Regions from separate parts of the Homo sapiens genome. Here region 1 is reported to be linked to region 2. The links are microRNA targets in miRTarBase. Many come from high-throughput screens and were not tested one by one. Region 2 holds a microRNA gene; the other region holds the end of a gene's coding sequence.
Evidence for each region. The annotated mature microRNA hsa-miR-6500-5p reads AGGAGCUAUCCACUCCAGGUGUCC and lies in region 2 at 5,039-5,062, shown strand. An mRNA with a match to its seed (bases 2 to 7 or 8) in the 3' UTR can be bound and repressed. Matches are read on the target gene's strand: a 7mer-m8 pairs with bases 2 to 8, a 7mer-A1 pairs with bases 2 to 7 and ends in A, and an 8mer does both.

Region 1: the mRNA of HSD17B13 is a reported target of hsa-miR-6500-5p. Seed matches in the 3' UTR shown: 7mer-A1 at 1,593-1,599 and 7mer-A1 at 2,557-2,563.

What each region holds. Positions count from the first base shown.
Region 1 is chr4:87,298,837-87,306,802 of GRCh38, reverse strand. HSD17B13 (hydroxysteroid 17-beta dehydrogenase 13) reads left to right here. Exons shown (of 7, transcript NM_178135.5): 7 at 1,495-3,009. The coding sequence ends at 1,585. It overlaps MIR5705 (microRNA 5705), which reads left to right and starts at 6,220; the gene lies at 6,220-6,308.
Region 2 is chr1:51,054,993-51,062,958 of GRCh38, forward strand. MIR6500 (microRNA 6500) reads left to right here and starts at 5,026; the gene lies at 5,026-5,111. It overlaps MIR4421 (microRNA 4421), which reads left to right and starts at 4,845; the gene lies at 4,845-4,913.

The DNA.
Region 1 (7,966 bases), not on the chromosome of region 2:
CCTGAGTAGCTGGGATTACAGGCATGTGCCACCACACCTGGCTAGTTTTTTTGTATTTTTAGTAGAGACAGGGTTTCACCATGTTGGTCAAGCTGGTCTCGAACTCCTGACCTCATGATCTGACCACCTGTGCCTCTCAAAGTGCTGGGATTACAGGCGTGAGCCACCGGGCCAGCCACTCTCTTCCTTTCAGTTGCCTACTCATCTCTTATGCATTCCTGGACATCAGTTGTCCTTTTGAAGCTTTCCTCCACTATCCCAGCCCATGTGAATCCTCCTTCCAGTTATAGCCCTTAATTCTAGATGGCTGATATTTTTCAATAATTGTTTTAAGATGACCATTTTAGCCTATCAGCTAAACAATATCAAAGACAATAGCTATTTTTCAAGTACTTTAGTTTACCTTATTATAGAGTGCATAATAGATATTCAGTAAATAGTAAAGGAGAGGTGAAGGCTTGCATAGAATGGATTCTGGTGGTGTCTCTTGGTGAGCTTTTAGCATCAAGATTAATCAGCAGTTTCAGCAATGAGCTCAGACCTTCAGTTTTAGATCTTTACTCATATCAGATAAGAGAGTGAGAAGAGTGGTATGTATCAGTGCTTTATTTATATTTGCATCCAATTTGAACTATGAATATTACAAAGGTGCACACATAGGTTCAGACAGATTGATTTAAAATGACCAAAGATGACCTGTCGTAAGCAACCTGGGTATCTTAAGATGCACTCCTTGGAGAGGGAATGTTCCTAAAAACATTTTCAGAGGGACGAACTGTATGAAATTCAGTAAAACATAAATCATGAGGAAAACTGATTACTCTCTTTTTGACATGAAATGAGAGTTTTAATGCATGGTTACGATTATTAACGTACTCCGCTGCAAGACGTTAATAAAGTTACTGTTTTGCAGGCTAGAATGTCTTGATGCTGTAATCAGAACACACTTTTTCCCCTTTCTTCCAGCTTCAAATGCAGATTCATAATTGGGCTGACTTCTAATAACTGCAATGTTTTCTGCCTTGGGCTTGCAGCAGAAGCCTGACAAAATAGTGTTTGTTTAGGCAATAATTTATTTATTTATTTATTGAGATGGAGTTTCATTCTTGTCGCCCAGGCTGGAGTGCAATGGCGTGATCTCGGCTCACTGCAACCTCTGTGTTCAGGCAATAATTTAGACTTTACCTTACTTGTGATTACTATAGCAATTACTATAGCCACAAGGCATAATTTTACTGTCTCATTTCAATTTTATGAATTTGAATGTTTTTACACTTTTCCTAATGAAGTCCACTATGAAGTTATGTCAAAAAAAAAAAAGAAAAAGAAAGATGCACACGTAAAAGAGAGGTGGTTGCAAGAGAAGAAAAGAACGGAGGAAAGTTAAACGCAAACCAGATAACTCTCAGCGTATTCTAAATGACCAAAAACAGAACTCTGTTGTCAAAGATTTTAAATGGAAAATTTTTCAATTTTTTTTTCTTTTTTGTACAGGTTTCTTCCTGAACGCGCCTCAGCGATTTTAAATCGTATGCAGAATATTCAATTTGAAGCAGTGGTTGGCCACAAAATCAAAATGAAATGAATAAATAAGCTCCAGCCAGAGATGTATGCATGATAATGATATGAATAGTTTCGAATCAATGCTGCAAAGCTTTATTTCACATTTTTTCAGTCCTGATAATATTAAAAACATTGGTTTGGCACTAGCAGCAGTCAAACGAACAAGATTAATTACCTGTCTTCCTGTTTCTCAAGAATATTTACGTAGTTTTTCATAGGTCTGTTTTTCCTTTCATGCCTCTTAAAAACTTCTGTGCTTACATAAACATACTTAAAAGGTTTTCTTTAAGATATTTTATTTTTCCATTTAAAGGTGGACAAAAGCTACCTCCCTAAAAGTAAATACAAAGAGAACTTATTTACACAGGGAAGGTTTAAGACTGTTCAAGTAGCATTCCAATCTGTAGCCATGCCACAGAATATCAACAAGAACACAGAATGAGTGCACAGCTAAGAGATCAAGTTTCAGCAGGCAGCTTTATCTCAACCTGGACATATTTTAAGATTCAGCATTTGAAAGATTTCCCTAGCCTCTTCCTTTTTCATTAGCCCAAAACGGTGCAACTCTATTCTGGACTTTATTACTTGATTCTGTCTTCTGTATAACTCTGAAGTCCACCAAAAGTGGACCCTCTATATTTCCTCCCTTTTTATAGTCTTATAAGATACATTATGAAAGGTGACCGACTCTATTTTAAATCTCAGAATTTTAAGTTCTAGCCCCATGATAACCTTTTTCTTTGTAATTTATGCTTTCATATATCCTTGGTCCCAGAGATGTTTAGACAATTTTAGGCTCAAAAATTAAAGCTAACACAGGAAAAGGAACTGTACTGGCTATTACATAAGAAACAATGGACCCAAGAGAAGAAAAGGAAGAAAGAAAGGTTTTTTGGTTTTTGTTTTGTTTTGTTTTGTTTTTTGTTTTTTTGAGATGGAGTCTCACTCTTTCGCCCAGGCTGGAGTGCAGTGGTATGATCTCAGCTCACTGCAAGCTCCACCTCCCGGGTTCACGCCATTCTCCTGCCTCAGCCTCCTGAGTAGCTGGGACTACAGGCGCCCGCCACCACACCCGGCTAATTTTTTGTATTTTTTGTAGAGACGGGGTTTCACCATGTTAGCCAAGATGGTCTCGATCTCCTGACCTCGTGATCCACCTGCCTCGGCCTCCCAAAGTGCTGGGATTACGGGTGTGAGCCACCGTGCCCAGCCTTTTTTTTTTTAATAGAAAAAATAATCCGACTCCCACTACATCAAGACTAATCTTGTTTTGTGTGTTTTTCACATGTATTATAGAATGCTTTTGCATGGACTATCCTCTTGTTTTTATTAAAAACAAATGATTTTTTTAAAAGTCACAAAAACAATTCACTAAAAATAAATATGTCATTGTGCTTTAAAAAAATAACCTCTTGTAGTTATAAAATAAAACGTTTGACTTCTAAACTCTGTCTCTATGAGTGTCCTTCAAGAACCAAGGATGTGGATGGTAACAGCTACATCTGGCAGTTATTAAATGAATCCAGGGGTTTTCTCAACTCTGGTTTCTTTGACAGCAGGAGTGCTGGTTTATCAACTGGAACTTACTGACCCCTTTCTATGTGTGAGATTAAGCACAGTGCTATTGTTTCTAATTTTTTTTCTTAGTCACCGGCAATAATTTTTTTCATAACATTCTTTTAATTTCTTGCCTTATAATCAAGAAATTTATGAGTAAAATGTATTATTTTTAAAGTATGGTTACAAAAATTCAAAAGAGAAACATGGAAAGTAAAAAATAGAAGCTTACCCCCAGCAATCCCATTTCCCAGAGGTCACACTGTCAATGCACAATCTTCCAGTCTTTTACTGATGCATGTTCATGACAAATACATTATATTCTTATTGCATGGGTCGTATCAGTAGTTTCATACCATACATTATGTTCTGTAACTTGCTCTTTTAGCTTACCAACTTATCACAAACAGCTGTTTGTTTCAGTATAGAGAATTCAACTTTTTTTCATGAGTACACAGTACTAAAATGGTACTCTAACCATTCCCTTTTGATAGGCACTTAGGATGTTTCCAGTATTTCTTAGTTCATCTATTTAAATATTAATTTAACAAATACTGAGTGCCCTCAAAGTTCTAGGCCCAGGGAAACATATATGAATAAGGCAAACTCCTTGTCTTAACAGAGCTCACATTCTAGTAGGTGGGACAAACAATAAAGGGACTGCAAATATGAGAGAGAGCATTTAAAGTAGTAGAGTCAGGGAAGAGCACGCTGAGAAAGAACATTTTGCGGACGAACTATTACCATACACAGGCAACTAAAAAATATTTTATGATATACATATTGACAAAAATAGAAACCTCTTAAATTCCAGTGTTAAGTTCAGAGCAGAAAACTTCTTATTTTAATTCCATTTTGGTTTTAATCTTTTATGAATGAAGCTCAGAGAAATGTGCGAGCAAAATATTCATCTCTCTTTGTCCATTTTTCTTGCTTATTTTGAGTGTAGTCCTCCTCCTTAAAAGTTCCACCTGCAGCCAGGCGTGGTGACTCATGCTTGTAATCCTAGCACTTTGGGAGGCCAAGGGGGGCAGATCACCTGAGGTCAGGGGTTCGAGACCAGCCTGGCCAACAAGGCGAAACCCTGTCTCTACTAAATATACAAAATTTAGCTGGGCATGGTGGTACATGCCTGTAATCCCAGCTACTCAGGAGGCTGAGGCAGGAGAATCACTTGAACCTGGGAGGCGGAGGTTGCAGTGAGCTAAGATCACGCCACCGCACTCCAGCCTGGGCAACAGAGTGAGACTCCGTCTCAAAAAAATAAAAAGCTCCACCTGAGCTTCCAAATGTTTTCCTATGACAATCTTCATCTATAATTCTCTCTAAGAGCCCTCTCTTTCACCAAAATCCCAGTTCCAAGGGCTACTGCTAGGATGTGCAGATCACCAGACAAATATTTTTTTGCAGGGCTTCTATCTATATAAACACTTTTATTAAAAATGCTTTATAAAATTTATAGGTCCATGTGCATGCAGTATAGTGATTTTTTGATAAAGATTTAGAATAATAGGAAGATTTGTGTATTTATTGTCCGAGCAGTACATGTAAAGATTCTTCTCGGCATCCTGGTACTATCTCTTTGGTCCAGGAATCATTTCTTTTTTATCAAATGAGCCATTCCTAGCTAATTTCATATCTTTTACCACAAGAAAGGGTAGCAATGCTGTTATTATTCATAATGCCATGGCTCTTTGTAATATGTTTGTAATAAAATAATATGAATCTTCACCCCTTTCCAATACCCTGCTACCATTTATTTAATCTTAGCTACATTATGCCTTTTGACATTGCATCATCCATTGTGCTACCCATGAATACTGGGTATCACTCAGAGACAATCACTCAAAGATTGTTACTGGTACAACACAGTTCAATATAGTACAATTGTTACTGGTACAATGTTTGATGATAATCACAAATTCAAGTCTTACCCAGGGTATATATACGAGAAAACATGAATGATTCGTTGTTTATTGCTCATTTTAAATTTATCATTTAGAATGTTATAGCATCACATAGAACAACACATCTTTCAACTGTGTCTTGTCTTGAACTTTTTAGGCCATCATCATTACATTTCTAGAATTGATCTCTGCCACTCCTGACCGTACCCTACCTCCCACACACCACCAGCAGCAGAGAGGGGATTGTGGACAGAACAAAATGAACAGCCCCATTTGCACAAGGAATGTCTGTCCCTCCTCTAGGAGAGCTTAACATTGACCAGGGAGAAGAGAACACAGCATCATCACATCAGTCAGAAAGGCCCACTGTTGTGAAGAAGCAATAGTCTTAAAAGCCCTCAGAAGAGATAAGTGCAGCCACCCCCCAACCCCCAGCCAAAAGGACTGCCTGACCCATGGCATAGAACCTGCAGAGGGGATAGGATGATTTTCCTGAATGCCATTGGCAAGCGGGGTAAGGACATCTGATGTCACCCTGCAGCCCTTGGATGTTATATAGCAGAAGTGGCATCATACTCAGAACAAACTGCGAGTGGATGCATGGGTCAACACATGCGGCTTGGGCAGTGGACCTTAGATAGCTTACAACCCTAAATTAGATCTATGCCCAATGTGAGTGAGAATTATCCAAAATCAGCATGTCAGCATCATTCTGGCAGCCAAATTTCATGTAATCCTGCAAAAGAAATTCTTTGCCAACCAGAAGTAGCAGTCTGCTCTCCAGGCCACCCTCCTGAAACGAAAGCCTGGAAACAAGACCCCAGGATGATCCTATAGTTACAAGTTGCAGAGCTCCCCAGGATATCTGGTCAACCTTATACACAGGGAGAGAAAGGGAGAGTACCCCAGAGAGAAAAAACAGAGCAGGCATCCGAAGAGGACTTGGAAAATTTCATAGAGGGCACTCCAAAGAATAAGGCTCTATGAGGCACAGGACTGGGGTAAGGCCCTCACTTGCTCAGATCTGAGGGTGGTATAGGTACAGCCAATCTTCAACTGTATGCAAAGCTTAAAGGAGTAGCAGAGTAAATGTATGGTTGAAGAGAAAATGCTTGGTTAGTTTCTAATCTAAATCTTATATGATCTATATAATAATGTTTCCAAAGATGGAATGAACATCTAACATTAAAGTTCCCCATTTACACAGGCCATGAGCCCCGAAACACCCATCCCAGGATTGCTGATGGGTGTTTCGGGGCTCATGGCCTGTGTAAATGGGGAAGTTTAAACATGCCCTTGCAGCATGGCTGCCGCATGAGAGGCATGTTGGAAATACAAACTGTTGCAACCCATCTCAAACTTACAAAATCAGAATCTGCATTTTTTAAAAACTCCTAGGTAATTCATATGTTTTAGAGGCATCTTTTTTTATAACACTAACTTTGAATTTAGTGCAGCATTATGTGAACTGGGCTGTTCTGTACATGTGATAATTACAACGAATTTAACAGTTACCCTTGTGTTTATGTCTTCACAAATTACGTGAGAAACCGTAAGGGGGAAATGCCAATCCCTGTCCTAAGAGTGCTCTCACGCTTTCTACTATTTGCTTCCTCTTGTGTCTAAAAGTTTTCAGACAGCTCATGACCTTTTCTATTCAGCTCTTCAAATCTGCCAAGTGTTTTGCTGAAACCCCTTCTTTATCTGATTGGATGTATTACATCTGATCAAATTTGCCTGTCAGCTGCTTGCAGCAAGGGTGGAATTACAGGAAAGTTAAGTGGGAACTTACTTGTATTTAATGGGAATCTTTTATAGTAAAAGTAATCACAGTGAAATCAAAGCAAGTACATTCTGACTTGCCTAGGGTGCAATCATGTCTCATTCAAACTAACTTCACAAACCCAGTGAGCAGCTAGAGAATATTCATAAATTCACATCAAAACACTTATGAAAAGTGAAGTCATTTACCAATTGCACTCCAGTAATGATCCATTATCTCAATAGAGATCTTCTTACTTTTAAATGTGAGGCTAACTTGTATAAATTAAGACTTAAATATTCCCAAACAACACTGAAAACCAAATTGCCTGTTCCCATACCTAATTCCAATAACTAGGATTTTTCACTTTTTTTTTTTTCTTTTTGAGACAGAGTCTCACTTTGTCACCCAGGCTGGAGTGCAGTGGTGTGATCTTGGCTCACTGCAGCCTCCATTTCCCGGGTTCAAGGGATTCTCCAGCCTCAGCCTCCTGAGTACCTGGGTTTATAGGCATGCACCACTACATCCAGCTAATTTTTGTACTTTTAGTAGAGACAGGGTTTCACTATGTTGGCCAGACTGGTCTCGAACTCCTGGCCTCCAGTGATCAGCCCGCCTCGGCCTCCCAAAGTGCTGAGATTATGGGCGTGAGTCACTGCACCCAGCCCTGGATTTTTTGACTTTCTGTTTCTCAACACCTCTTTCCTTCTGATGGCTCTTTACTAATTAGTTCAGACTTCGTTCAATTAATTTGATGCATTTAGTTCTCTACTTCTCTTCCATTGTTCTCTTTCTCTTTTCAGCCTTCTCTTTCTAAGCTTCTCCCCACATTCTAATCTAGTCTGGAAACATAGCCTATTTTTCAGTCATCAAAACTATCCTGTATTACCTATGTAGCAGGAAAAAAAAAAAGACCACTTGATGTTGAATTCAATTTGGAATGATGTGATTTAAATATTTCAAACAATATTGCAGTTCCAGTGTACCTTGTTATCTAACAATATTGCACATTTGAGAGTATTATTTTCTATGCTGGTGAATTTAATGTAGAAATATTCAAGATAAACTACAACAACTCATAGACTTTTTCAAGCCAAAACAAGGCTTTTTCTACAATTCATTCAAGAAAAGATATTCACTCGGCAACTTTGATAGGAAATACATGATGCTAGAATGT
Region 2 (7,966 bases):
TCTCAAAAAAATAAACAAATAAATAAATATATTCTCTATTTCTTCTTTGATCTTTATTAATTCCTTTATTCCACTAATTTGGGGCTTAGTTTGCTCTTTTTCTAGTTCTTTGAGGTGTAATATCTTATTTGAGATCTTTCTCCTTCCTCCCTTCCTCCCTCCCTCTCTCCCCTCCCTCCCTCCCTCCCTTCTTTCTTTCTCTTCCTTCCTTCCTTCCTTTCTTTCTTTCTTTCTTTTCTTTCTTTCTTTCTTTTTCTTTCTATTTCTTTCTTTTTGAGACTGAGTCATGCTCTGTCACCCAGGCTGGAGTGCAGTGGCATGATCTTGGCTCACTGCAACCTCTACCTCCCAGGTTCAAGTGATCTCCTGCCTCAGCCTCCCACGTAGCTGGGATTACAGGCACGCACCACCATGCTTGGCTAATTTTTTGTATTTTTAGTAGAGATGAGATTTTGCCATGTTGGCCAGGCTGGTCTCAAACTCCTGACCTCAAGTGATCCTCCCACCTCGGCCTCCCAAAGTGCTGGGATTACAGGCATGAGCCACTGTGCCCGGCCTTCTTTCTTCTTTTAATGTAGGCATTTATCACTATATACTTCCCTTTTAGTACTGCTTTTGCTGCACCCTATAAATTTTGGTATGTTCTACTGTTTTTCTCTTTTTTTTCCCTTTCTTTCTCTCTTTCTTTTCTTTCTTTCTTTTTTTTTTTTTTTTTTTTTTTCTTTGCCCAGGCTAGCCTCAAACTCTTGGTCTCAAGCAATTTTCCCATCTTGGCCTCCCAAAGCAGTGGGATTATAGATGTGAGCCATCATTTCTAGCCTCAAGATACTCTTAAAATTACCCGTTGATTTCCTCTTTGACCCAAGAGTTGTTCAAGAGTTTGTTGTTGAGTTTCTATGTGTTTGTGATTTTTCCTATTTTCTTAAGATTATTGATTTCTACTTTCATCCCTTGTGGTCCAGAAAGATACTTGGAATAATTCCAATCTTCTTAAATTAGGTCACTTGTTTTGTAATCTAACATATGATCTATCCTGGAGAATGTTCCATGTATGCTTGAGAAAAGTGGATAATCTTCTGTTGTTGGGTGCAAATTTCTTTATATATCTGTTAGGATCATTTGTTTTATAGTGTTTTCTGTTTCTTTTTTGATATTCTGTACATTATTATAAGTGGAGTATTGAAATCCTCTACTATTATCATGTTACTGTCAAATTCTGCCTTCAGATCTGTCAACATTTGCTTTATATATTTAGATGCTCTTTGTTCAGTATATACATATTTATAATTGTTACATAATCATGTTGAAATGATCTTTTTATAATTATATCAAGACTTTGTCTCTGCAGGCAGCTTTAAACTAAAATCTGTTTTGTCTAACATAAGTATAGTTACCCTGCGTATCCTTGGTTACCATTTGCGTGAGAAATCTTTTCTCATCTCTTCACTTTTAGTCTATATGTGTCTTTAACTCTAAAATCAGTCTCTTATAAACAACATACCATTGGATCCTGTTCTTTCAAATTACACAGCCACTCTATGCCTTTTAATTGGTGAGTTTAATCCATTTACATTTAAAGTAATTAGTGATAGCTGAGGACTACTATTGCCATTCTGTTAACTGGTTTGTGTCTTTTGCAGTTATATTGCCCCTCTCTTCCTCTCTTATTATATTCGTTTGTTATTTGATGTTTTATAGTGATTGCTTTGATTCTCATCTCTTTATGTTTTCTGTATCTGTTACAGATTTTATTCTTTGTGGTTAACTTGAGGCTTATGAAAAATATCTTGTATTTCTAACCATCTATTTTTAAGTTTATAACTATTTCAATCACATCCAAAACCTTTATACTTTTGGCCAGGCATGGTGGCTCACACCTGTAATCCCAGTGCTTTGGGAGGCTGAGACAGGAGGATTGCTTGAAGTGAGGTGTTTGAGACCAGCCTGTGCAATGTAGTAAGACCTTGTCTCTAAAAAAAACCAAAACCAAAAACCGTTTTACATTTTTACTCCCCACCCCTACACTTTGTGTTCTTGTAGTCAGTTTGTTGCCTTTTATATTGTGTATCCTTTGACAAATTTTTATCTTTTAATTTTTATATTAGGGTTAAAAGTAAGTTAGGCCCCACCATTATAGTTTTATATTAACTATATTTGTCCATATATTTTCCTTTACTCATAATATTTATGCTTTTATATGTTTTCATTATACTATTTAGTGTGTTTTCATTTCAATTTGAAGAAATAACTCTTTTAAACATTTCTTTTACGGCTGGGCTAGTAGTGACAGACTCCCTTTGTTTTTGTTTGTCTAAGGAAGAATTCATCTCCCCTTCATTTTTAAAGGATAATCTTGCCAGATGTAGATTCACGGTAAGTAGTTTTTTTTTTCCAGTTCTTTCAATATATCATCCCATTCTCTTCGGCATGCAAGGTTTCTGATGAGAAAGCCACTGATAGTCTTATGGTGATTCCCTATATGTGATGCATTACTTTTCTCTTGCAGCTTTAAAATTCTTTCAGTGTCCTTTATTTTAGACAATTTGATTAAAATGTACCTTGGTATAGTCTTGAATTGATCCTCTTTGAAAACCTGTAAGCTTCATGAATCTGGATATCCATTTCCCTCTCAAAATTTGAGAAGTTTTCAGCCATTACTTCTTTATTTTATTTTATTATCATTATTATTATTATAATTTTTTGAGAAGTAGTCTTGCTCTGTCACCCAGGCTGGAGTACAGTGGCACAATCTCAGTTCATTGCAACGTCTGCCTCCCAAGTTCAAGTCATTCTCCTGCCTCAGCCTCCCGAGTAGCTGGAATTACAGGCACCTGCCACCACACCTGGCTAATTTTTGTAGTTTAAGTAGAGACAAGGTTTCACCATGTTGGCCAAGCTGGTCTTTAACTCCTGACCTCAGGTGATCCACCTGCCTCGACCTCCCAAAGTGCTGGGATTACAGGCATGAGCCACTGCACCTAACCCATTATTTCTTTAAAAAAGCTTTTTACCTCTTTCTCTTGCTTTTCTTCTTCTAGTACTCTCATTATGCACATATTGGTTTGCTTGATGGTGTCCCATAAGTCCTATAAATTTTCTTCACTCTTTTTCATTCTTTTTTCTCCTCTGACTGGATAATTTCAAATAACCTGTCTTCAAGGGCACAAATTCTTTCTTCTGCTCAATAAAGTCTATTTTTGAAGTTCTCTATTGTGTTTTTAATATCAGTCATTAGGTTTTTTGGTTCCAGAATTTCTTTCTTTTTCTTTTTTTTTTTTTTTTCTTTTTTTGAGTTGGAGTCTCATTCTGTCACCCAGGCTGGAGTGCAGTGGCATGACCTCAGCTCACTGCAACCTCTGCCTCCCAGGTTCAAGTGATTCTCCTGTCTCAGTCTCCTGAGTAGCTGGGATTACAGGTGCACACCACCATGCCCAGCTAATTTTTTGTATTTTAGTAGATATGGGGTTTCACTGTGTTGCCCAGGCTGGTCTCAAACTCCTGAGCTCAGGCAATCCGCCTACCTTGGCCTCCCAAAGTGCTAGGATTACAGGTGTGAGCCACCACTCCCAGCCTGGTTCTTTTTTATAAGTTCTACCTTCCTGTTGAACTTCTTGTATTGTTCATGTATTCTTTCTCTGTTTTCAGATGAAATCAGACATGTTCGAGGTGGTATGGCCGTAGACTCTTTTTCTGTTTTCACTGAGTTGTCCAACTGTGTTCTCCTATTGCATGCTGAACTTCTTTAAAAACAATTATTTCTAATTGTTTGGAAGGCAATTTATAGATATCCATTTCTTTGGGGTTGGTTATTGGAAAATTATTGTGTTCCTTTGGTGGTGTCCTGTTTCTTTGATTTCGTGTGTGCGTATTTCTTGTAGCCTTGGGCTGTTTCTTTGCATATTTCATGGAGGAGTAACTTCTAGAGCATATGAACTGGCTTCATGGAGGAAGACTGTCACCTACAGGTTGGTGCAAGTGATGGCAGCAGTGGCCTGTCTGGAGTAGCCACTGTGAAGATGCCGGCTTCAGCAGGGGAAGCACAACTGGGGCTGCACACTCTGCTGAGCCCACGGGTGCCGGGAACAGGTGGGAGCCCCACCCCCTAACAAGTCAGTGGAGCAGGAGCCACATGCTCCCAGGCACAGCTGCAGCTTCTCAGCTGTAGCCACAGACCCAGGCATCCCTGAGGTCTCAGGGGCCCCGGAAGCCCTTTGTTCCCGTAGGCTTGAAAGTGCCTGCTCCCACTGCCTGGCCTCTCCCTGCTCCTGGCCCCCACTCTGGGGCAGAGCAAAGTTGTGGCAGAGCCCAGGCACTGTTGTGACCCAGCTGGGTACCCAAGCACTCAGGGCAGTGCTGACATGCCAGCCCCCTGCTGTCTCAGGCCATCCAGACTTTGGGAACTGAAGAGCACAAGAGGGAGACCAAGGGGTTGCTCAGGGTGGCTCAGTGTGGGCCTGTAGGCAAACCTCAGCATGAACAGCCTGGGCGGCATGGACAACATGTTGATGGTGACAGGAGGCAGACAGGCTCCTGGGCAGAAAGGGGCAGGTTCCCAGTGAAACGCAACCTTCAAGCCATGGATGGCATGAAGCCTGGGGGCTGGGCTGTCAGCTCCAGGTGGAGTCTGCGGCCTGGAGTGAGAACTTATGGTGCTTTTTCCAGGCCCGCCCATGGCCACCCATGGGCCAATCAGAACACACTTCTTCCTTTCTGAGCCCATAAAAACTATGTTACCTAGCTAGACTCATACAGATGTCAGGACTACCAGCTGCAGGAAGGAGCTACCCACTTCAGGTCTCCTCTACTTGTCAGTATGACCTGCCTGTGGAAAAGAGCTACTCACTCTGGGTCTCCTTTCTGCTGAGAGTTGAACACTTGTTGGGACAACCTGTCTGTGGAAAGGAGCTACCTACTCTGGGTTTCCTCTCCCCTGAGAGCTGGACACTCATCTGGACAACCTGCCTGCAGCTAGGAGCTACCTTCTCTGGGTCTCTTCTCTGCTGAGGGCTGCACTCGTCAGGACTACCTGCCTGCAGAAAGGAGCTATCCACTCCAGGTGTCCTTTCTTCTGAGAGCTGGACACTTGTTGGGATGACCTGCCTGCAGGTAGGAGCTGCCCACTCTGGTCTCCTCTCTGCTGAGGGATGCACTCGTCAGGACTAACTGCCTATGGAAAGGAGCTACCCACTCCAGGTCTCCTCTCCCCAGAGAGCTGGACACTTGTCAGGATGACCTGCCTGTGAAATGGAGCTACCCAATCTGGGGCTCCTCTCTACTGAGGGCTGAACTAGTTGGGATGACCTGCCTGTGGAAAGGAGCTACCAACTCCAGGTCTCCCAAGAGCTGTTCTGTCACTCTTTTGCTCAAGAAAGTTCCTTTCTGCCTTGCTCACCCTCCAGTTTTCTGCATACCTCATTCTTCCTGGACACAGGACAAAAATTCAGGACCTGTTGAATGGTGGGACTGAAAGTGCTATAACACAAACAGAGCTAAAACACCTGCCTCCACCCCACTCGTCACACTGCAGGCAATGAGAAGGAGAGAAGAGCTGCAGCCCTTCAGGGAGCTCAGATGCACAGGCTCCCCCAGCCAGGGCTGTGACACCCTCTTTGGGGCTCTGTGGTTTCTAGTGTCTTGGAGCTTCCAAGTGCCACCATGTTCCCCTTGTCCAGATGTGAGTGCCCAGAGCAGAAGCCACTTATAGTGCATCTGATCCAGCCACAGGCTTGAACAGAGCCAGCACCTGTGGTGGCACCTGGAACTGCCCACCCCACCACAGCAGCCAATGCTTGGCTGTGTGCAGCAGCCAGACCCCATGCTTGCTTACTTGTGCACCCCTCTCCTCTCCATGCCTGGATCATTCTTTGAAGGTGTGGGAGCCAGGCCAGTAGCATGAGCTGAGTGCAGCCTGCCAGGCCGAGTGGGTGGAACAAGCCCAGCAGGCTTGAGCAAAACTCTGGCAAAGGCACCACTGGCCACAGAGGTTTCCAACTGGAAAAGTGACACCTGGAGGATGCCATGACACAAGGATTCTGACTGATGGGTATGCAGCCCTTGGTACAACACTGAATATAAATGGTAAGAGTGAACGTCCTTGTCTTATTCCTGATCTTAGGTGGTACTATGGTTTGAATATGATTTGTTTGGCCCTGCCAAGTCTCATGTTGAAATCTGATCCCCAGTGTTAAAGATGGGGCCTGGTAGGAGTGTTTGGGTTGTGGGGGTGGATCCTTCATGAATAGCTCTGTACCATTCTCACGAGAGTGAGTTCTTACTTTTAGTTCCCACAAGAACTGGTTGTTGAAAAAAGCCTGGTACCTCCTCTAGTCTCTCTCTTGCTTCCTCTCTCACCATATGATATGCATATACCAGCTCCTCTTCACTTTCTGCCATAAGTGGAATCAGCCTGGAGCCTTCACTAGAAGCAGATGCCAATGCCATGATTCTTGTGCAGCCTGCAGAACCGTGAGACAAATGAACCTCTTTTCTTCATGAATTACCCAGCCTCAGGTATGCCTTTATATTAATAGTAACACAGACTAAGATGGGATAATTTTTTCAAGCCTTTCACCACAAAGTGACATTAGCAGTGTGTTTTCATAGATGCCCTTTATCAGGCTGAGGAAGTTTCCTTCTATTCCAGGTTTCTTGTTTGTTTTTTTAATCATTAAAGTGTGTTGAATTTTCTCAAGTGCTTTTTCATATCTATGACATGACTGTTTGGCTTTTGTCCATTATTCTATTAATATGATATATGATAATGTATGCTGAGCCTGTATTCATGGAATAAATTCCACTTTGTCATGGTCCATAAATATTTTTATATGGAGCTGGAATCATTCTGATAGTCTATATTCATAACAATAGTTTATATTCATAAAGTTACTGGAAAGAATTTGGCTGTTAATCTTATCAAGAATACCTCAGAGATGATGAGCTGCTTCTGTCTTTCTGCTTTCAATATACTCTCTGTGCCCTTGGTTTTCCAGTTGGTTATGTTGTGTATAGGTGTGCATCTCTTTGCATTTATACTACAGTATAACCTTGAACAACATGAGGGGTTGGGGTGCCGACCCCACTAGTCAAACATCCACATATACATACCTGTGAGAAGAGGGTAGAAAAAAAATCCACATACAACTTTTGACTTCCCAAAAACTTAACTACCAATAGTCTACTATTGGCCAGAATGTTACTGACAACATAAACAGCTGATTAACACTTTTTTTAATGTTATAAGTATCATATACTGTATTTTTACCATTAAGCCAGCCAGAGAAAAGAAAATAATAAGGAAAATATATTTACTATTCATTAAGTGGGTAATCAGAAAGGAATTCATCCCCTCTGTTTTCACATTGAGTAGGCTAAAGAGGAGAAGGAAAAAGAGGGGTTGGTCTTGCCATCTCAGGGATGGCAGAGGTGAGTAAAAGTTCCATATAAGTGGACCTGAACAGCTCAAACCCATGTTGTTCAAGGGTCAACTATACTTGGAGTCTGTTGAGTTTCTTTGATGTATAGATTAATGTTTTTCATCAAACGCTGGCAGTTTTTGGCCATTATTTTGTCAAGCATATTTTTTGCTCCTTTTTCTCTCTTCCGAGACTACCATTATGCATAGATTGGCATGCTTGATGGTATCCTATAGATCTGCAAGGTTCTCTTCATCTTTGTTAATCTTTTTTTCTTTCTCTTTCTCAGACCAGATTTTCTCAATTGGTTTATCTTCAGGTTCACTGATTCTTTTTCAAATATGCTCTTGAAACCCTCTAGTGAATTTTTTTGTTTCAGTACTTTTTGACTCTAGAATTTCTATTTGGTTGTTTTATTTAAAAAGAAATTATTTAAATGTCTATCTCTTTATTGATATTCTCTCTTAAGTTTTATATCATTTTCATACTTTCCTTTGGTTCTTTATACATAGTTTCCTTTAGTTCTTCAAACATTTAATATCGCTGATTTAACA